Homo sapiens: one gene and its partners. The protein of the gene in region 1 purifies or fractionates together with the protein of each later gene. This does not show direct contact. Each region holds a gene or a part of one and is shown on either strand. Other genes may lie near its edges.

Evidence for each region.
Region 2: the proteins of RAB3IP (region 1) and CCNYL1 purify together in Homo sapiens (affinity purification with mass spectrometry, with the first as the bait; one large-scale study listed by BioGRID). This does not show direct contact.
Region 3: the proteins of RAB3IP (region 1) and TBC1D25 purify together in Homo sapiens (affinity purification with mass spectrometry, with the first as the bait; one large-scale study listed by BioGRID). This does not show direct contact.
Region 4: the proteins of RAB3IP (region 1) and DEPDC1B purify together in Homo sapiens (affinity purification with mass spectrometry, with the first as the bait; one large-scale study listed by BioGRID). This does not show direct contact.
Region 5: the proteins of RAB3IP (region 1) and TESK2 purify together in Homo sapiens (affinity purification with mass spectrometry, with the first as the bait; one large-scale study listed by BioGRID). This does not show direct contact.
Region 6: the proteins of RAB3IP (region 1) and PLEKHA5 purify together in Homo sapiens (affinity purification with mass spectrometry, with the first as the bait; one large-scale study listed by BioGRID). This does not show direct contact.
Region 7: the proteins of RAB3IP (region 1) and SRGAP2 purify together in Homo sapiens (affinity purification with mass spectrometry, with the first as the bait; one large-scale study listed by BioGRID). This does not show direct contact.

The regions. Positions count from the first base shown.
Region 1 is NC_000012.12:69,821,280-69,823,699, forward strand, and holds the end of RAB3IP (rab-3A-interacting protein isoform alpha 1), read left to right. Parts: 3' UTR 1-1,920; downstream 1,921-2,420. UniProt on the Homo sapiens protein: Guanine nucleotide exchange factor (GEF) which may activate RAB8A and RAB8B. Promotes the exchange of GDP to GTP, converting inactive GDP-bound Rab proteins into their active GTP-bound form.
Region 2 is NC_000002.12:207,714,640-207,718,139, forward strand, and holds part of CCNYL1 (cyclin-Y-like protein 1), read left to right. Parts: intron 1-3,500. UniProt on the Homo sapiens protein: Key regulator of Wnt signaling implicated in various biological processes including male fertility, embryonic neurogenesis and cortex development. Activates the cyclin-dependent kinase CDK16, and promotes sperm maturation.
Region 3 is NC_000023.11:48,556,714-48,559,911, reverse strand, and holds part of TBC1D25 (TBC1 domain family member 25), read right to left. Parts: intron 1,016-3,198; coding exon 888-1,015; intron 755-887; coding exon 566-754; intron 299-565; coding exon 1-298. UniProt on the Homo sapiens protein: Acts as a GTPase-activating protein specific for RAB33B. Involved in the regulation of autophagosome maturation, the process in which autophagosomes fuse with endosomes and lysosomes.
Region 4 is NC_000005.10:60,599,167-60,602,666, reverse strand, and holds part of DEPDC1B (DEP domain-containing protein 1B), read left to right. Parts: intron 1-3,406; coding exon 3,407-3,500.
Region 5 is NC_000001.11:45,345,774-45,348,163, reverse strand, and holds part of TESK2 (dual specificity testis-specific protein kinase 2), read left to right. Parts: intron 1-163; coding exon 164-246; intron 247-470; coding exon 471-555; intron 556-1,101; coding exon 1,102-1,185; intron 1,186-1,384; coding exon 1,385-1,471; intron 1,472-2,169; coding exon 2,170-2,287; intron 2,288-2,390. UniProt on the Homo sapiens protein: Dual specificity protein kinase activity catalyzing autophosphorylation and phosphorylation of exogenous substrates on both serine/threonine and tyrosine residues. Phosphorylates cofilin at 'Ser-3'. May play an important role in spermatogenesis.
Region 6 is NC_000012.12:19,360,233-19,363,732, forward strand, and holds part of PLEKHA5 (pleckstrin homology domain-containing family A member 5), read left to right. Parts: intron 1-1,349; coding exon 1,350-1,474; intron 1,475-3,500.
Region 7 is NC_000001.11:206,392,041-206,395,540, forward strand, and holds part of SRGAP2 (SLIT-ROBO Rho GTPase-activating protein 2), read left to right. Parts: intron 1-648; coding exon 649-864; intron 865-1,504; coding exon 1,505-1,633; intron 1,634-3,500. UniProt on the Homo sapiens protein: Postsynaptic RAC1 GTPase activating protein (GAP) that plays a key role in neuronal morphogenesis and migration mainly during development of the cerebral cortex. Regulates excitatory and inhibitory synapse maturation and density in cortical pyramidal neurons.

The DNA of each region.
Region 1 (2,420 bases):
CAAGAGAATGATTCTCTACCGAAACTCTGCAAAATGGGGATATCAAGAGAGTTGGAAAATGTAAGACGTAAAGACCATAATCAGGAAAATACGCATCATATTTGTTATTCACTGAGAGGGAGGAATTTCCACTTAAATCCTATTTCCAGCAGCTGGATTGTGCTCTCAGTGGAGTGCTCTGGATTCTGATTAATAGAGATTTTCTAGTCCTCCCAGCAACTTCCTTCTCAATTCTCTTCACTTTCCGCAGATCTCGGCACCAGGGTTGCATCTTGTGGGCTCCATTGTGTTTTCACACAATGTGCTATTTGTCCTTCACAGTGTTTTGGTTTATTTTTCTGTTTGTCCATCTTGTTTTTGAACAATTGCCAGCATTTAAAAATGAGGAAATCTAAAATCTGCATTTCAAGCTGCTCTTTTTTAAAATGTGCCGTTTCGACAACACTGAGCCCACAGTCTTGAATGACAACACTTGGGTGGAGCTGAGTGACTCCACCTGTCGGGTGGCTACACCCTTGCTCAGGGTATGCACTCCATGGTTTGCTCTATGGCCCACCATCCTGGATTGTCTCCCTGACACCAAGGCTAAGGGACCCACTTTACTCACTTATCTGCTGGGCCTTGGAAGTATTTCAGTTCGGAACCCCAATTCTAACCTTAGCTTCTCAGGCCATTAAATGAAATCTCATTTCTATGATGCTTCCTGTCACATCACTGTGCTGCTGAGAACATGAAGTCTGTGGGTGAATTGGTGGACGGGATCCAGAATCATTACTTGGCAGTGGATTATAGTGTGATGACTCATTTCCGGTGGTCTCCAGGAGACTTGGCTGGGAGCTTCTCTTGGAGTCTAGGGTTAGCCAGAGGCTACATGTTTTAGGCATCTTAATTCATATTTTATCTAAAGGCATATAAATCCTTAAAAAAAATCATTTGACTTCATCCTTGCTCCCTACATCCAGCCAGTAACCATTGCTTTGTTTTACATCGCGTGCTTCAGGCTTTACTACAGCCTACCTGGATTTTGCAGTAGCTTCTTAAACTGCTTAAACTTTGGATATTGCCCCAGCCAACACATTCTGCCACAGAGATCTCTCTGAGTTAAATGGGATTGTATCATGCCCCACACCCAAGCAGATAGAAACTGTCAATAGATACACTTAGAATGAATATGCATGGAATCAAATTACATTCAGAATCTACCACTATAGGTAGTGAATACAACAGGATAGCAGAGGCTGGGAAGGGTAATGGGGGTTGGGGGGTGGGAGGATAAAGGGGTTGGGTAATGGGTGTAAAAATCTATAGAAGGAATATGATCTGTTGTTTGGTAGCACAATAGGGTAAATACAGTTAATAATTTATTGTATATTTCACAATAAAGGAGTGGATTTGGAATGTTCTCAACACAAATGATAAATGTTTGAGGTGATGGATACCCCAATTACCCTGATTTGATCATTATACGTTGTATGTTTGTATCAAAATATCATATGTACCCCATAAATATGTACAACTATTATGTATCCATAAAAATTGGAAATAAACTACCACCATCTTTCTTCAGCCTATTTTCCTATCTCCTCTCGCACCATACTAGGCACACAATCTCTGTACCTGTGCTGTCTTCCAAGCCATTGCTCATGTTTTAAGAAATATACTTATTGTTTAATATATCCTGTACCACTGTAGGATGACTGTAGTTAACAATAATGTGTAGTTTCAAATAGCTAATAGCTGGAAGGAAGTTGTTGAATGTTTCCAACATAAAGAAATGATAAGTGTTTGAGATGATGGATATGCTAATTACCCTGATCTGATCACTACACATTATATGTATGGAAATATCATTGTGTACCCCATGAATATGGGCAATTATTATTTGTTAATTAAAAAAATAAAAAAAAGACCCACCCACTGTTTAAGTGTATCTACATCCTAGCTCTTTGTGGCACCTTTCCAGATCCTCCCAGATTAAATTACTGTCCTTTCTCTGTTCTCTTGAGACATTTTCCCAGCTATCAGTCTGCCCTGAGTTACAGTCACTTGTGTTTTTCTCATGCCCTAGATTTCAGTTTATGGAGGGCAGGGACTATTATTTATTCATTTTTTTATTTCCTGCACCCAGCAGATAGCTTCACACAATTGTTGAAAATTCATTTCTTTAAACAACTTGATGACTTGTCCTTATAGATCTGACAGCCAGTGTGACCGTCAAAAGAAGCTCCTAAACCTTTTCTTTTCTAAGCTAAACTTAGTTTGCTCATTTTCAAGTAACAGTATATGTGTGTAAAATATGTTTGGAATTATGTCACCTACAATTCTAATAATGAAACAATAGACAAATTTGGAAAATGGGTATTCTACAAGGCAATGAGCCTGGACTATAGAAAAAAGTCAAAATCATGAAGAGCACAAAT
Region 2 (3,500 bases), on another chromosome or scaffold:
AGGTAAGGTACCAGGCATTAAGCATGGGATGATGATAAAGAGTGCTAAATCAGAAAAGTTGGAAAAAGAGAATTTGTAAGCACAGAATTTACCATTGTATGTTAGTATGACAGTTACATTTTTATTTCAATTTGTCTCAAAATTTATTTTTGTGGCATTCAATAAAGTGATAATAGAAATCTCCATTTCGGCATTTGCCTATTATTCATAAGTTTCCATAGAAACATGGCCAGAACACCAAATATAAAGTATAGACACATTGAAAGTTTGCTTTTAATATCTTTATTTCAGACAATTTTATATCAGTCTCCCTGGAAACAGAAATTCTTACTGAGATGTAAAACATTTGGCTGGGCATGGTGGCTCACGCCTGTAATCCCAGCACTTCGGGAGGCTGAGGTGGGCGGATCACGAGGTCAGGAGTTCGAGAGCAGCCTGGCCAACATGGTGAAACCCCGTCTCTACTAAAAATACAAAAATTAGCTGGGTGTGGTGGCGGGCATCTGTAATCCCAGCTACTCAGGAGGCTAAGGCAGGAGAATCACTTGAACCCAGGAGGCAGAGGTTGCAGTGAGCTGAGATCGTGCCACTGCACTCTAGCCTGGACAGTGGAGCAAGACTCTGTCTCAAAACAAACAAACAAACAAAAAATTTAGCTTTTCTACAATGAAGAATTATTTTTGTTACTTAGACAAAAATCATACATAAATGACGCTCGGCTTTGTTCTTCAAGCTATTTCTTTTTTTTTTTTTTTTTTTTTTGACAGAGCTTCACTCTTGCCTAGGCTGGAGTGCAATGGCACAAACTTGGTTCAGTGCAACCTCTTCCTCCCGTGTTCAAGTGATTCTCCTGCCTCAGCCTCCCAAGTAGTTGGGATTACAGGCATATGCCACCATGCCCAGCTAATTTTTGTATTTTTAGTAGAGACAGGGTTTCAGTATGTTGGCCAGGCTGGTCTCGAACTCCTGACCTCAAGCGATCCAGCTGCCTTGGCCTCCCAAAGTGCTGGGATCATAGGTGTGAGCCACCGCGCCTGGCCTTTTTTTTTTTTTTGAGATGGAGTTTCGCTCTTGTTGCTCAGGCTGGAGTGGAATGGCGCGATCTCGGCTCACTGTAACCTCTGCGCCCAGAGTTCAAGCAGTTCTCCTGCTTCAGCCTCCTGAGTAGCTGGGATTACAGGTGTGTGCCACCACGCCCAGCTAATTTTTTGTGTTTTTAGTAGAGATGGTTTCACCATGTTGGCCAGGCTGGTCTGGAACTCCTGACCTCAGGTGATCCACCTGTCTCAACCTCCCAAAGTGCTGGGATTACAGGTGTGAGCCACCACGCCTGGTCTCGTCAAGCTAAGAGATGCTCCTAAGAACCTAGTAAACATTTCAGATAGACTCAAAGTATTTTCTACTACCTTGCCTTTATTTAACGGTATGTCTAACATAACTGACGGTAGTATCAGTAACACAAAATAAGATACTAAGATCTTATTGTCCGATTTTATTAGTACTCTTGACTTTTCATGGAGCATTTTATGTTCTGACGTTAGGAGCTTTGCTAATTTGCTGGCTAAAGGCGCTCTCTGAAGTGACTCTTTCTATTCTTTTCCACTGATGGGTGAAGGTAGGGAAAGAATTGGCAATGTAATGTGGAAAAACCTCTGAGCAACAGATCTTTCCTCTTTCCAGTAGCTATTTTAAGCCCTCTCTTTTTTTTTTTTTTTTGCTTTTTTGAATAATATGTTTGATGTAAAAGACATAGAGAATACAGAAAAGTCATTGATTATGGTATGCATATGAATATAACATTTTATTTTAGAAAAATGAGATCATTCTATATGAGCTGCTTCATAACTTACAGCAGTGAAATAATGTCATAAATTCCTGAATCACTGCTTGACATCCAGAGAGTGCTCCAAGATATCTTTCCATGCCAGGACACCCTGCTCTATCGCATGCCTTCTAGTAACTGCTTAATGTACCATCAGATGGTTGGAGTATCATTTATTTACCTATCCTTTATGATTGGGCATCTTTTCTAGTAACATCATACACAGTCTCATTACATTTGATTTCAAGGGTACCGATAAAAACATATTTTGATGACTGATGCCTTGTACCTCCCTGTAGAATTCAGTTAAATCTATGGGTTGAGTCATTTTGTAGTTAAGATATTTTAGTATTAAATGTTCTTATGGGCCAGGTGTGGTGGCTCACGCCTGTAATCCCAGCACTTTGGGAGGCCGAGGCGGGTGGATCACGAGGTCAGGAGATCGAGACCATCCTGGCTAACACGGTGAAACCCCGTCTCTACGAAAAATACAAAAAATTAGCCGGGCGTGGTGGCGGGCGCCTGTAGTCCCAGCTACTCGGGAGGCTGAGGCAGGAGAATGGTGTGAACCCAGGAGGCAGAGATTGCAGTGAGCCGAGATCACGCCACTGCACTCCAGCCTGGGTGACGGAGCGAGACTCCATCTCAAAAAAAAAAAAAAAAAAAGTTCTTATGTCAAATTGGAGTTAGCATTGACTTTTCCCTGGACTTTAGAATTCATCATTTAATATTTTTTGTTTCTTGGTAGCCTATCTTGCATCTTTAATTCTGAATAGCTACCACTTTAAAAGATTTGATGCTTACCACTTTAAAAGATTTGATTAGATGACAAATCAAGAGAGAATGTTAGAAGAAATATTAAAAGATGTGGGAAAACTGGGAGAAACTTGACTAGTTTTGGGTGTGCTGAAACAGATGTTTATTGAGTACCTTTAGGTGGCCAGGCTGTGTTCCAGATTTAGGGCAGACAGTGGTATACAAGACAGAACCTCATCCTAACTCTGATCCTTACATTCTGGAGGGAGCTAGGGATAGATAATACATGAATAATCAAGAATGTTAGGTGGTGAGGTGCTAGGGAGAAAAGTAAAATAGGGTCATGGATTGGGGAGGAGGACAGTTACATGGGGGTTGTGGGGATGAAAGATGGCTGCTCTCCTTACGTGACCTGTGAGCAGTCCTAAAGTGAGAAGGGAGCCTTGTGAGGATGGTTGGTGAGAGCCAGGGGTCCACACAGACAGTTACTTTGGAGTTCCTTGAATGGGAGCAAACTTGTTTTTGGCCAAGGACAGAAAGACACAGGGTGGCTGCGGAAGAGTGAAAAGGATGCCAGGACTATGGTGGGTTAAGGCCATGTGTGTATAGTGGGCCTTGGCAAAGAATATAGACTTTAGTTGTGATAGGAAACCATTGGAGGATTATAGCCTGGGAAATATTTTTAATTCTTTTTTTTTTTTTTTGAGATGGAATCTTCACTGTGTCGCCCAGGTTGAAGTACAGTGGCTCAATCTTGGCTCACTGCAACCTCCGCCTCCTGGGTTCAAGCGATTCTCCTGCCTCAGCCTCCCGAGTAGCTGGGGCTACAAGCACGTGCCACCACACCCGGCTCATTTTTTGTATTTTTAATAGAGATGGGGTTTCTCCGTGTTAGCCAGGATGGTCTCGATCTCCCAACCTC
Region 3 (3,198 bases), on another chromosome or scaffold:
TCATGCCCTGGCAGTAGGACACCTGTGGGTGGGTAACGGCATAGGTGGTGAGCAGGTCGTGCAGCGCCCGTAGATGTGGGCCATCCTCAGGCCCCGCATAGTAGGGGTGGGCCCGGTCAGTGCGCAGTACATCCTTGAGGACCGTGCTGCGGATGAATTCCAGGTCCTCAGGGTTCGCTCGCTGGGCCCACTCGCTCTTGAGCTGCTCATACTCGCGGCTCTTGCGTTTCATGTAGTCCATCCGCTCTCGGCCTGTCAGTCCATCTGGATACACGTTCAGCAGGTACCGCCACACCACCTGCCCAGGGGTGAAAGGGATGAGGCTGGAGTTCTCCAGATAAACCATACCCCAATGTCTATCAGTTGCCACCCACCCACCCCCCTTGGGCCTCTGTCTTCCTTCTAAGTCTGCTAGGCCTCCGACTGCTCGCCCCTCCTTAAAGAGAACTTCGTGCCCTGTAACATCTCCACCCTTGCCCACAGCAGTGTGGCTGACTGCATGTGTCTCAGGAGCTGTTAATGAGTGCAGCAGTGATGGACCCAACAGATGACTGAGGATGCTCACCTTTCGCAGCGAGGGCTCCACACCGCCATGATAGATCCGCAGGCGCAACTCCTCGGGTCGGGAGAGCTGGCCCTCGTGGTTCAGGTACGTGTGAAACTCAGCATCGCTCAGGGGTGGCTTGAAGGGCTTGACATCTTCCCCATACGACCAGCTCAGCACTTGTTGGACCTTAGACAAGGTACGGCCCACCTATGAGGAGGGAGGGAGGCCACCATCAGCTGTGTGGACTAGGGGCAGATGCCAACCAGCATGCTCAGAACCAGGGTGCCAGGAAGGCTCTGCCCTCCAACCACAGCTGGGTCCCTAGGGTCCCTGAAAACACCTGAGTGAGGATGGACTGTGTAAAGGGCAGGGCGGCAGTCGTCAGTGATGACCGTTTCTCAGCCAGCAACACGTCGGAGCCAATGACATCTTTGGGGCTGATTATGTCCCAGTCTTCTAGCAATGGGCCTGGGCAAACAGAACAAAGTGCTATAAGAATGGGGATGATAACCCAGACCTCAGGGCCGGCTTCCTCTCCTTCTACTGAAGCCGGGCTACCTGCAGGGGAACAAACAACTCCCAGTCCCTCTTCCTGTATCATCCAAATCATGTAAAAAACAAAATCAAACCATGAACAATTCTTTTGTAGTAGATGTCTCAGGAACTGGCTGGGCAGCCTCTAATATTTTAATGATATAAAGTAATATTTATTGAGCAGTTACTATGTGCCAAGCACTAGGACAAGCGCTCAACAGCAATATAAGAAATAATAATACTAGCTAATGCTTCCACAGTGCTGTATGCCAGGAACTATTCTGAATTCTTTGCCAATACTGACTCATGCAATAGTCACTTCAGTCCTATCGGTTGAGTACTACTACTACCATGACTCTCTTTGAGGAAACAGGCACAGTCATGATAAGGTACTTGCCCAAGGCCCCTTAGCTAGTGAGTGAAAGAGTGGAAATTTGAAGGCCAGGCCCAAGCTCAAGAGCCCAAACTCCTACTCTCATATTTTTGCCAGTCCTCCTCCCACAAACAGTGCACGCTAATATTACCATTCTCATTTTACAGACGATGACAAAAAGGTTTGGAACAAATAGTAAGTGACCAAGATTCTACAGCCAGGAAATAGTAGGGCTGGGATCTGAACTTCATTCACCCTAGTCCAGAGCCCAGACATACTTTAGAAATAAAATATTTGTGCAAAAGTGGAACAGGTATGCCGTATATGCTTTTTTTTTTTTTTTTTTGGAGACGGAGTCTCACTCTGTAACCGAGGGTGGAATGCAGTGGTGTGAACGTAGCTCACTGCAAACTCTGCCTCCTGGTTTCAAGTGATTCTCCTGCCTCAGCCTCCCGAGTAGCTGGGATTACAGGTGCCTGCCACCATGCCCAGCTAATTTTTGTATTTTTAGTAGAGACGGAGTTTCACCATGTTGGTCAGGCTGGTCTTGAACTCCTGACCTCACGTGATCCACTCGCCTTGGCCTACCCAAAGTGCTGGGATTATAGGCGTGAGCCACTGCACCCAGCCTCTTTTTTCTTTTTTTTTTGAGATGGAGTCTCACTCTGTCGCCCAGGCTGGAGTGCAGTGGTGCAATCTTGGCTCACTACAAACTCCACCTTTTGGGTTCAAGCAGTTCTCCTGCCTAAGCCTCCCAAGTAGCTGGGATTACAGGTGCCTGCCACCAGGTCCAGCTAATTTTTTTTTTTTTTTTGAGGCGGAGTTTCACTCTTGTTGCCCAGGCTGGAGTACAATGACGGGATCTCGGCTCACTGCAACATCCACCTCCTGGGTTCAAGTGATTCTCCTGCCTCAGCCTCCCGAGTAGCTGGGAGTACAAGCATGTACCACCATGCCTGGTGAATTTTATATTTTTAGTAGAGACGGGGTGTCTCCATGTTGGTCAGGCTGGTCTCGAACTCCCGACCTCAGGTGATCCACCTGCCTCGGCCTCCCAAGGTACTGGGATTACAGGCATGAGCCACCACACCTGGCCTAATTTTTGTATTTTTAGTAGAGATGAGGTTTCGCTATGTTGCCCAGGCCGGTCTCGAACTCCTGACCTCAGGTGATCAGCCCGCCTTGGCCTCCCAAAGTGCTAGGATTACAGGCATCTTTTTTTTCTTTTTTTGAGACAGTCTTGCTCTGTCCCCCAAGGCTGGAGTGCAGTGGTGCGATCATAGCTCACTGCAGCCTCAAACTCCTGGGCTCAAACGATCCTCTTGCCTCAACCTCCTGAGTAGCTGGGGCTTACAGGCGTGTGCCACCATGCGTGGATGATTTTTTTTTTTTTTGGTAGAGATGGGATCTTACTATATTGCCTATGGTCTTGAACTCCTGGGCTCAAGAGATCCTCCTGCCTTGGCCTCCCAAAGTGTTGGGATTACAGGTGTGAGCCACTGCACCTGACCGTTTCTCTTTCTTTTTCATTTTGCCCCGCATTCTTTCTTCCCACCTCACATAAGATGTGGTGGTTGAAGCAGCAGTGGCCATCTGAGAGTAGGTTCGAGAGGATCTTCAGAGATCCTCTCCTACAGCCCTGATACGAGAGGGCTACTAAGCCAACAATGGCAATGTCCAGTGGCTGGCTTTTTTTTTTTTTTTTTTTTTTGAGACGGAGTCTTGTTCTGTCACCCACACTGGC
Region 4 (3,500 bases), on another chromosome or scaffold:
GCTGCTGTTGTCATGGTGGTTATATAAAAACAATGCAAAAGAAATATAATATATTATTATCGTGTGGACCCCAAAGTGGGGTTTGTATGTCAGCCTGTGGGAGCAGAAACCTGGTAAAGGCAGGCAGAAGGTCCACTTGACTCCTTCTGACTGATTGGACCTCTTCTCATTTGAGATCTTTTTGAGGCACCACAATCAAGGACCAGTGAACTGCCTCCTTCTGAGGTATTACAAAAATAATTAATTGTCCAGCTGTTTCTAGAAGGCAATTTTAAAATTAAAATTTTTTCTATTTTTTTGCAATTATCAACCTAACACATTGAAGAAACTTGGGAAATATAGAAAAAACACACCAAAAAGTATCAGAGTTACACTAAAATGTTCATAGTCAGTAATATAGTCTTTCAGATTTTTTTTTCTGTGTCTGTCTGCTGTCTATGTCCATGCCTACCTTACTTTCTTCCCTCTCTCTTCCCTCCCCACCCTCCCTTCCTTCCTTCCCTCCTTCCCACCTTCCCTGCTTCCTTCTTGCCTGCCTCCCTTCCTGCCTGCCTCCCTTCCTGCCACTTACATTCTGTTAACAATGAGAAAAAAATTCCCCCATCATTAAATATTGTTGATTGGCATGAGAATGGCCAAGAGCACAGACTCAGGAGCCTTTGAATTCATGACATGCCTTTTGTTAGCTGTGTCACCTTAGGCAAATTATATAACATGTCTGTGCTTCAACATCTGTCCCAACATTTCTTTTTCTCATCTGTAAAATGGGAATAATAGTAGTTAATATTTACCTCATAGAGTTTTTCTGGGGAATTAAAACATGTGATTAAAATACATGTGGGCTTAATACATGTGAAATGCTCACAATAATGTTTATCACATTGTAAACCTACAATTAGTAGCTGCCTTTGTTGTTGGTATCATCATTATTGTTATATTATTCCATAATAATATTATTGGCAACATAGTATTCCATAATATGGATATACCATAATTTATTTAAATGATACTTTTTGGTTGGTATTTAGATTGTTTTCATGCTTTCCCCCATTTTGGAAGCAATATAGCAGTAAATATTTTTAAAGGTAGATTTTTTTTGGCTAATCTGTGATTATTTTTTAAGAATAAACTCCTAGGGGCAGCATTGCTTGGCCAAAGGCCATGAACATATTTTAAGTATCTATAGCATATTGCCAAATTTAGAATGATCATTTCAATTTACATTTCTGTCAGTGGTATAAGAGAGTGTTCATTTCTTTGCCCCTTTGCCTACTTTGGATATTATCATTAACACTTGTATATATCTTTGCCACTTGCATGGGTGAAAAGTGTAATTTTAACTGCTGTTTTAGTTTAATTTTTTCCTCTGATATTTTTATGAGCCAACCCTAAAGAAAATAAAAATGAACAGAAATACTTCACCAAGTTTCTGCAAGGAAATGTTATAGCAGTGTATTAGTCTGCTCTCATGCTGCTAATAAAGACATACCCAAGACTGGGTAATTTGTAAAGGAAAGAGGTTTCATTGACTCAGAGTTCAGCATGGCTGGGGAGGCCCCAGGAAACTTACAATCATGGCAGAAGGGGAAGCAAACACATCCTTCATGAGGCAGCAGGAGAGAGAAGCACCGAGCAAAAGGGAGAAAAGCCCCTCATAAAACCATCAGATCTCATGAGAACTCACTCACTATCATAAGAACAGCATGGGGGGAACCACCCTGTGATTCAGTTACCTCCCATCTCCCACAGCAAGGGGATTATGGGAACTACATTTCAAGATGAGATTTGGGTGAGGACACAGCCAAACAATATCAAGCAATAACTGTGTTGCCCTGTATACTTGCTAGGTTTGTGTATTCACATGCATAGCACAGGCATATATTGTAGTAACTTAGCCTTGTGAGCCCTTTGCTATTACTTGAAGTTCAGAAGGCTGAGCTATGGTGATTAATTTAACTGCAGGTAAACATGATCTTGTTAAGAGACACTGCAGTGTGCTCTGAATAAAATCAGTAGTGATTCATTTGTCCAGTTACCTTTTCTCTCTTGCAAGTACATATTAGAATTGCCAAGCACCTGTTCCATTCAGCCCTCAGAACCTATAGATCTTTGTTCTTTTGATTAGGCTCCTAAGCCTCTACACTGTATCACATTTAGGGGAGTGCTTCTCTGAAAATGCAGTGTTGCTTGGATTATTCCAGTGATTGTTTTAGGACAGTTTCAGGGCTGACCCTGGGATACATTATTAGGTAGGCAATGTTTTTGACACAAGCCTTCTATGATCCTCATCTGCAACCTTCTATTTCAAAGGACTCCAGGCTCTGAAATTAAATATTTTTAATGTATGTTCATTTATTCACAGGCCTTGGTTTCCTTTTTCCTCTTATTTCTCTCTTCTCCCTTATCCCTTCTGCAATGTCTGCACCTTTGTTGTTTTACTTGATTCTCATGGGTAAGATGTTAGGAAATGATTGTAGTACCCCTCTCTTCCTAAAAGCTTAGCTAAATGCATGCCACTACCATCCCCAAGGCATTGAGAATCACACTCTTCAGATGTGGGAATGCGCCTGGATAGTTCCAGTGGATATCCAACATTATCAATGTTTTGAATCATTTTAGTCAATGTGTTTAATTTATGCTTGAATTTCAGATCTTGTTAAAAGAGGGAATGCCGAGACCAGCTCGGTCGTGGAGACCCTAACCCAGTGGCCCTAGAGGAATTAAAGACACACACACACACACACACAAATATAGAATGTGGAGTGGGAAATCAGGGGTCTTACAGCCTTCAGAGCTGAGAGCTTTGAACAGAGATTTACCCACATATTTATTGACAGCAAGCCAGTCATAAGATTTACTAAAAGTATTCCTTATGGGAAATAAAGGGGTGGGTGAAATAAAGGGAAGAGCTCTGGCTAGTTATCTGCAGCATGAACATGTCTTTAAGGCACAGATCGCTCATGCTATTGTTTGTGGTTTAAGAATGCCTTAAGCGGTTTTCCGCCCTGGGTGGGCCAGGTGTTCCTTGCCCTCATTCCTGTAAACGGACAACCTTCCAGCATGGGCATCAAGGCCATCACGAGCATGTCACAGTGCTGCAGAGATTTTGTTTATGGCCAGTTTTGGGGCCTGTTCCCAACGAGGGCACAAGCTTTTTTTGTTATTGAAATGGCTCTTGGGTTTACAAAGGTAAAAATCCAATTTAAAACCGTGGCTTTAAATAATAATATTTTGAAGTTATGGAAATACTTTTACTTTTCAATATAGAGTTTCCCCCAATCAAATTTTGAGGACTAACATGGCATTGCTACGGTACAAGGAGATATCCTGTATTTGATCTAAACTAATTCTTATAATTTATTTGAAAATATGCTATATTCTTTCACTACTAATCCTTTTGCCTCAGATAAAATACCCAGGAGCTGATATGGATATCACTTTATCTGCTCCATCATTTTGCCGTCAAATTAGTCCAGAGGAATTTGAATATCAAAGATCAT
Region 5 (2,390 bases), on another chromosome or scaffold:
TCTTAGAGCCCCTGACCTGACCAGTGGGGTCAGCTTGAGTGCGGTTCACCAAGGAGCAGAGGACAAGGTGCCCTGTGATAGGAAGGGGGGAATGGGTGGTAACTCTATGGCTGATCCCCGCTTCTGAGCCACATTATTTTCTCTTCCTTCCTGGGAACCCTAGAACTGCCTGATAAAGAGGGATGAGAATGGTTACTCTGCAGTGGTAGCTGACTTTGGCCTGGCTGAGAAGATCCCCGATGTCAGGTGTGTAGCCCTACTGGATGCTGGGGTCCAAGGGACAGGGGGCTGAAGCTAAGGGAAAATTCTAGCCTCCTCCCCAGAGGCCAGGACTTGGTCACAGCTCAACCTCAGCTCCCTAAATTTGTTTAGTCCTCGTCTGTACCCATCCTTGAGGTGGAGGAATGGTCAAAAGATTCCATTGCACCAGCCATTGGCAAGCTCATTTTCTGTATAATCTCACCCCACAGCATGGGGAGTGAGAAGCTGGCCGTGGTGGGTTCCCCATTCTGGATGGCACCTGAGGTTCTCCGAGATGAGCCCTATAATGAAAAGGTAAGTTTGGAGGATCTCAAGGCCTGATTCTCCTTTTTTCTTTTTCTTTTTTTTGAGATGGTCTCACTATGTTGCTCAGGCTGGAATGCAGTGGCACGATCTCGGCTTACTGCCTCCCGAGTTCAAGCTATTCTCCTGCCTCAGCTTCCCAAGTAGCTGGAATTACAGGCATGCACCACCACGCCCAGCTAATTTTTTTATTTTTAGTAGAGACAGGGTTTCACCATATTGGCCAGGCTGGTCTCAGACTCCTGACCTGAAGTGATCTGCCCACCTCGGCCTCTTGAAGTGCTGGGATTACAGGCATGAGCCATCGCGCTCGGCTGATTCTCCCTAGAATCCACTCTTAGCAGAGTGTCCAAGATGTTCCTACCAAGAGCAGTGGTGGTACCTGGCAGCTGCCCAGTGACTGACTGGGATGAAGTATGGGCAATATGGCCCAGGCCTGGGCTGTTAGATGGTGGGGTGCAGGGGAGGCAGGGGCAGGGGCAGATACCCTACCCCTCAACCCATTAAGAGGGAAACCAAAGTCCGACTACCCACCAGGCAGATGTGTTCTCTTATGGTATCATCCTCTGCGAGATCATCGCCCGCATCCAGGCCGATCCGGACTATCTTCCCCGCACAGAGGTGAGCTGCAAGCATGGGGATCATTGCCACTGATGGGGCTAGTTTGAAGCAATGGAACTGTTCTGTCCCTGGGATGGACTTGCTGGAACTCTCTGTTGCTGGTTGTCAGGGGCAGCTCCCAACCACTTCTACTGAGCAGGCTAGGATGGGTGGGGGGATTAATGAACTGTCTACCTATGCTTTCCATACCCATCCACAGAATTTCGGGCTGGACTATGATGCTTTCCAGCACATGGTGGGAGACTGTCCCCCAGATTTTCTGCAACTTACTTTCAACTGCTGTAACGTGAGTGTCTTTCTCCCTCTGCCTTTCATCAGGGGCTGGCTGAACCCTTTTCACCTGGTTAGGACTGTACAGAGAGGCTGCTAATTAGCTTCATGAGGGACCTCATTTTCACTGTAGTGACAGCAACCACACCTCCTCCTCCTCCCTCTGGCAGCTAACCTATTCAGAGCTCTGGACAAAGGAAAGAAAGAAGTTGTTTTGTATTATCTGGTCCTCAACCTGTAGGGTAGACCCATCACTCCTTGCGTTAGGTGTTGATGGAACTCTGGTCCGGTTTTATTGTTGGACTGTGGATCCAACTGGTCCTGAGGCATATGAGAAAGGCTCTTCTTGGCCTTCATGTATGTAGCTCTGGGGCTGGACCTTACCTGTTAGGATCAAGGGGTAGGTGGGCTTTGTTCAGATACCTCCCAGAAACACATTAGGAGCAGAACTCAAGAACAGAATAAACTAATATGAGCATACTTTTGGAAGGTTCTGTGACAAGGTGATAAGACAAACACTAAGACAGGGAGGGTAGTAGACAGTAGTGTTTTCCCTGACCTGAACTGTAGGGATCACCTTCATTGTCTGGGGCCTTTAGAAAAGGTCTCTCAGCTGCACATCTGAATCTTCAAAGATGCCAGAAATAGACTCAAATGCCATCTTTGGGGTGGGAGATGGAGGGCAGAGCTCATGGCTGTTGTGGATACCTACAGATGGATCCCAAACTGCGCCCATCTTTTGTGGAGATTGGGAAGACCCTGGAGGAAATTCTGAGCCGCCTACAGGAAGAAGAGCAGGAGAGGGATAGGAAGCTGCAGCCCACAGCCAGGGGTAAGAGATTAGACCAGGGAGCCCAACCTAACCCTAAGGGAGGAAATTCGGATGTGGGGCCTTCTCCTCTTAGGGTTGTGATTGCCAGGATCCCAGGTCCAGA
Region 6 (3,500 bases), about 50 Mb from region 1:
TGAGGTGGGAGGATCACCTGAGCCCAAGTCGCAGTGAGTAGAGATGGGCCACAGAGTGAGATCCTGTTTCAAAAAAAAAAACAAAAAAAACGTGGCGGGCACAGTGGCTCATGCCTGTAATCCCAGCACTTTGGAGGCCAAGGCGAGTGGATCACTTGAGGCCCGGAGTTCGAGATCAGCCTCGCAAACATAGTGAAACCCCATATCTACTAAAAAATACAAGAGTTAGCCAGGCACAGTGACACATGCCTGTAATCACTACTTGGGAGGCTGAAGCAGGAGAATCGCTTGAACCCGGGAGTCAGAGGTTGCAATGAGCTGAGATCGCGCCACACTACCCTGCAGCCTGGAGGACAGAGTGAGATTCCGTCTCAAAAAAAAGAAAAAAGAAAAAGAAAAAAAGAAAAATTAAAAAAAAATGCATTAACTGAAAATTTAAAACATAATCAGTCACAGCTAGATTAAATTATCATTAATCCCGGTTAAGGAATCTTATATCCCAACAGCTAGGTCTTAGCAATATGCACCATCTCTTTTTTTTGAGACAGAATCTGACCCTGTCGCCCAGGCTGGAGTACAGTGGCGTGATCTTGGCTCACTGCAACCTCTGCCTCCCAGGTTCAAGTGATTCTCCTGCCTTAGCCTCCCAAGTAGCTAGGATTACAGGCATGTGCCACCACGCCCAGCTAATTTTTTGTGTTATTAGTAGAGACGGAGTTTCACCATGTTGACCAGGCTGGTCTCGAACTCCTGACCTCGTGATCTGCCCGCCTCAGCCTCCCAAAGTGCTGGGATTACAGGTGTGAGCCACTGTGCCCGGCCTGCATCATCTCTTTAGACAAATAACTTTTTGCATCCTAGTAGTAAAGAATGTTAATATTATTAATATACTTGAACCTAAATTTATTATCAGTAAATATTTGATAGAGTGTGATTGTTTATTTATTTTTTTGTTTGTTTGTTTGTTTTGAGACGGAGTCTCGCTCTGTCACCCAGGCTGGAGTGCAGTCCGCGATCTCCGCTCACTGCATGCTCCACCTGCCAGGTTCACGCCATTCTCCTGCCTCAGCCTCCCGAGTAGCTGGGACTACAGGCGCCCGCCACCACACCCCACTAATTTTTTTGTATTTTCAGTAGAGACAGTGTTTCACCGTGTTAGCCAGGATGGTCTCAATCTCCTGACCTCGTGATCCGCCCTTCTCGGCCTCCCAAAGTGCTGGGATTACAGGCGTGAGCCATCACGCCCGACCGTGATTGTTCAATAAACTTTATTTTGGAATTATTTTAGATATGCTAATCTAATGTGATAAGAATTCTTTGAAAAGAAAATTTTTCTTTTTATTCTACAGTTAAAAAAAACTGAAAACATTTCATATGAAATGCTTTTTGAACCTGAGCCAAATGGAGTAAATTCTGTGGAAATGATGGATAAAGAAAGAAACAAAGACAAAATGCCTGAGGATGTTACATTCAGGTAATATTTAAGAAAAGCAAAGGAATCATTCACAAAACTGTGTAACTGCTTAAAAATGGTGAACTTCAGAGTCAAAAGTACTGGATTTCAGCCCCAGCTTAGCTACCTAGGAGCTATAGAATCTTGAGCAAGTTATATAACCTCTTAAACTACACATTCCTCACTTGTAAAAATGGCAATAGGGCTGGACGCACTGGTGCACATCTATAATTCCAGCACTTTGAAAGGCCAAGGCAGGAGGATCACCTGAGCCCAGGAATTCAAGACCAGCCTGGGCAACATAATGAGACCTCATCTCTGAAAAAAAAAATTAGCCAGGCATGGTGGCATGTGCCTGTAGTCCTAGTCTGTACTCGGAGGCTGAGGTGAGAAGATCACTTGAGCCCAAGAGCTCGAGGCTGCAGTGACCCATGATTGTGCCAGTATACTCCAGCCTGGGCAACAGAGTGAGACTCTGTCTCAAAAAAAAAAAAAAAAAAAAAAAAGGCATAATAACAGTATCTATCTGACAGGTGTGTTGTAAAGATTAATACGAAAACACATGTGGCCAGGAGCAGTGGCTTATGCCTGTAATCCCAGCACTTTGGGAGGCCAACGGGGGCAGATCACTAGAAGTCAGGAGTTTGAGACCAGCCTGGCCAACATGGTAAAACCCTGTCTCTACTAAAAGTACAAAAATTAGCCAGACATGGTGGTGCATGTCTGTGGTCCCAGCTACTTGGGAGGCTGAGGCAGGAGAAATGCTTGAACCCAGGAGGCAGAGGTTGCAGTGAGCCAAGATCACACCACTACACTCCAGCCTGGGCGTCAGAGTGAGACTCCATCTCAAAAGAAAAGGAAAAAAAAAGAAAATACATGTACAGCACTTTACACTGTGCTTAGCACCTAGGAAGTATTCAATAAATGATACCTTACCCCAGGTGCATGCCTGTAGTTCCAGCTACTCAGGAAACTGAGGTGGGAGGATTGCTTGAACATGGGAGGTCAAGGCTGCAGTGAGCCATGATCACGTTACTACACTCCAGCCTCGGCAACAGAGCAAGACCCTGTCTCAAAAAAATTTTAAAAAGAGAGATAAATACCTTAAAAAAAAAAAGTCAAAAGGCATATAAGCTGTAGCAGAGTAAGCAATTCATCACTGCCTATGCAGTCGGCCCTCCATATTCATGGATTTATGCCTTTACAGTCGGCCCTCCATATCCATGGATTCCGAACCCATGGATCTGGAGGGCCAACTGTACTATGCCATTTGATATAAGGGACTGGAGCATCTGCAGATTTTGCTATCTGTGGGGGGGCCCTGAAATCAGTCTTCCCAGGTAATGATTGACATTGGTCAAAATTCTAAGCTGTCTCATAAGAGTTCCAGAAATTATGGTGATTTTCTTTTTTCTTTTAGCTATATTTCTTTTTTTGTTTTTTTTTTGTTGTTGTTTTTTTGTTTTTGAGACAGAGTCTCGCTCTGTTGCCCTGGCTGGAGTGCAATGGCGCAATCTTGGTCCACTGCACTCGGTTCCCGGAGGGAACCTCTGCCTCCTGGGTTCAAGCAATTCTCCTGCCTCAGCCTCCTGAGTAGCTCAGACTACAGGCGCGTGTCACCACGCATGGCTAATTTTTATTTTTTTATTTTTTTTTTTATTTTTAGTAGAGACGGGGTTTCACCGTGTTAGCCAGGATGGTCTCGATCTCCTGACTCATGATCAGCCCGCCTTGGCCTCCCAAAGTGCTGGTATTACAGGCGTGAGCCATCGTGCCTGGCCATTTTTAGCTATATTTCTTAACTAGCCTTCTTTTTTTTTTTTTGAGACAGAGTCTCACTCTGTCACCCAGGCTGGAGTGCAGTAGTGCAATCTAGGCACACTGCAACCTCCACCTCCTGGGTTCAAGCGATTCTCCTGCCTCAGCCTCCCAAGTAGCTGGGATTACAAGCGTGTGCCACCATGCCCAGCTAATTTTTGTATTTTTAGTAGAGACGGGGTTTCGCCATGTTGGCCAGGCTGGCCTCAAATTCCTGACCTCAGGTGAT
Region 7 (3,500 bases), on another chromosome or scaffold:
TGAGAAAATGTGTTGTGTGGTACTTGGCATAAAGCCAGGAATATACTAAGTGCTCAGTAAATGATAACTGGCATTGCAGTTGCTGTGAGAGGGTGTTTGATCTGGATAAAGCAGAACAGACAGATCCCCAGAATGCCAGGCCGGTAAAAGGAGCTTTTGGAAGCTTTTCCTCTTCCCTATTTTATATCTGAAAGGTAACAGAAAGCATAGGCTACTCCATAGGCTGCACTGCCCTCTTCGGGGTTCCTGACCAGCCCAGAAAGGCTTTGCCCTTGGGGCCTGAGAGTGGTGGTGTTGTTTCCCATCTACTCAGTATTATGAGGTGACTAAGTGATAGAAATCACCTGGCCAATATTAAAGAGAAATGATTACAAATGATAATGAATAGAAATAAATAATACATGATGGATAGACATTAAGTTATTTCAATAAGAGGAAATGTTGGCTCAGTTCACATATTGCTTTCCTGTGCTTTGGAGTGGTCTTTAATCTGTGTTTGCTGAACCAAACACTTCTGGATTTTTCCCTTAGGGGTGTGAGGATATTGCTTCATGGGGGAGAGCTCCAGCTGAGTCTGTTAGTCTGTAAAGCAGAGAAATGACCCCCTTGGCTTGACCTCTGGGGGTGGGGGTGGGCGATGTCTTGCAGGTGATGAAGACATATCACATGTACAATGCCGACAGCATCAGTGCTCAGAGCAAACTAAAGGAGGCGGAGAAGCAGGAGGAGAAGCAAATTGGTAAATCGGTAAAGCAGGAGGACCGGCAGACCCCACGCTCCCCTGACTCCACGGCCAACGTTCGCATTGAGGAGAAACATGTCCGGAGGAGCTCAGTGAAGAAGATTGAGAAGATGAAGGAGAAGGTATGTAGGCTCCCACAGCTGTAGATGCTGGGAAGCAACATTCGGTAAGGCATGGCTGATAGGAATTTCCCAGTAGTCACTGGGAAGAGCAGACGAGGAAGCTCTGGGTTCTTTTAGTGCCTAATGACTGAAAATGAGGCCTTGCTCTGTGCCCTGGCAGGAATACTAGGTATTGGAAGAACTGGGCACGTGGGATCCAAGTTTCTAGCCTCTAGCAGAAAACCAAGAAACAGCAGTCACCTTTCCCAATCCATTTTCCAAATAGAGCTCAATATCCTATTGCTTTGGAGGGGTTGGGGGTGACTGTAAACCCAGGATTTGGTTTCAGGTATCAGGTGTTCAGGGGCAAGAGTAGTGGTACCTCCTTCAGAGTGGCATTGCAAGAATGAAGAATGATATTTGAAGATAGAATCAAAGTGGGGCACGCATCTTAAGTAGGGAGCCTCATTAACCTTTCCTGAATTGATCTACATTGTGCCCTTGAATCTCATTAAACAGAATTAGAACCCAATTTAAGGCAGATGCGCATAGGGAGTAGCAACACAATTGTAGTTCTTGAATACACTGTACTTTTATCTTTTAGAGAACAAGCCCCCCTTAAAAAAAAAAAGGTAAAAGTGAACTTCTGTTTCCTTTTCAGCGTCAAGCCAAGTACACGGAGAATAAGCTGAAGGCCATCAAAGCCCGGAATGAGTACTTGCTGGCTTTGGAGGCAACCAATGCATCTGTCTTCAAGTACTACATCCATGACCTATCTGACCTTATTGATGTAAGTGCTTAAAGCCAAGGGCCTGAGGGCACCTCTTTTCTGGTTTCAGAATACTCGTCAGACATTCCCCGATACTATTGTTCAGGAATCTGGTGCATTTTGAGAACAATTAGGAAGATAGCAGCCATGATCCATCAGGGTGCTTGCCAAGCACCAAGTGAAACACTTCACACTTATTCAATCCTAACTGGAATTCTGGGAGGAAGGCATTATTATCTATATTTTTACAGATTAACAGAGAGTTTAGATGACTTAGTCAGAGTCAGTTAACAAATGACAGAGGCAAAATTTGCACCTAGGCCTGATGACTCAACCCAGGCTCATAACCACTACACTCGTCTATCTGCCAGGAAATACTTTCTTCCTTTTTTTTTTTTTTTTTTTTTTTTTTGAGATAGAGTCTTGCTCTGTCCCCCAGGCTGGAGTGCAGTGGTGCAATCTTGGCTCACTGCAACCTCCATCTCCCAGGTTCAAGCAATTGTCCTACCTCAGCCTCCCCAGTAACTGGGACTACAGGCATGCATCACCATGCCCAGCTAATTTTTGTATTTTTAGTAGAGATGGGGTTTCACCATGTTAGTGAAGCTGATCTGGAACTCCTCACCTCAGGTGACCTGACCTCAGGTGATCCACCTGCCTCGACTTCCCAAAGTGCTAGGATTACAGGTGTGGGCCCTGCACCCGACCTAGGAAATACTTTATTACATCAGCTTCTCTTGCACAGAAGTGAGTGGCAAGAACTTAACTAAAGAGTTACAATGCCATCCCTTATATTTGTATAGCATTTAAGGTTTCTCAGTGTTAACTCATTTGACTCTCACATCACCATTATGGGTAAGCATTGCTGTCTCCAGTTGCTAGATAAGGAAGCTCAAGGTCCAGAGGACTACGAGACTCACTTGTCCAAGGTTATGCTGCAAATTAGGGTCCTGTCAGGAAGGTATCCAGCTCCCCCTGACATCTGGCCCATTTTTTAAAATATGTGATGCAAAGGGGATTGAGGAAAGCGGCTAATAGGCACATGTGTTTTGCAAGGGGCAAGCGCAGGGATAAGCTTTTTGTTTTTTGCCTGTGAGTTATTCTTGGCCTTGTTTTTCCTGCTGCTTCCCCTTACAGTTGGGTCTTACAAGCCCTCTCACCTACAGACTCCAATCTGGCCCAGGTCCTGAGCCACACCTAAGTGAAGCTATGTAATTACACCCTTTCTCACCTCTCCTTCCAGTCATCAAAGTGAGGCATCTGGAGCCAGCCAATTTAGCATCCCAGTCTCTGGGGCTTCAAGTGTATCTCATCTCGGAGGCCTGCCATTTGTTTCAGGGTCTTGTTGGCAGCAGTTGGGCTTTGCAAAACTCTGGCCCGACCACTCTTGCTTTCCTGCCTTGGTTTCTCCACAAGCAAACCTGCCACACCTCACAACATCATATGGGATTTGGGTCCGAGTCTTGCTGTTATATCACCACCTGGGTCATCTAGGCTTGTCACTGAATTGTTCTGAAACCCAGCTTTGTTTCTCACCCACTCCCAAGCTCCTCTAGCTAACTGAAGAACTGGACTAATTCCCTGGTATTAAAATCTGGCCTCACGTAAGAGTTGCTTGGGGAACTTCTCTAAAATACAGATTCCTGTCTCCCTTTAGCCGAGGATTTTTGATTCAGTAGATTTCAGCCACTTAATGCCCTAGGTGTCATTGTCTCACTGGGTTAGTAGAGCCTTGCTCCCTGTTCTGGTACCTCTTTGTTCTCTCTGCTTATTGATGACAATCTGAACACTGTCCTTCAATGGAGGTCAGAGCCCTAAACAAGATCCTTTCTCCTCCTCAGGGGAAGAGCTCCTCATTGTTGGGAGAGAGGCCTGTTCTCAGCATAAG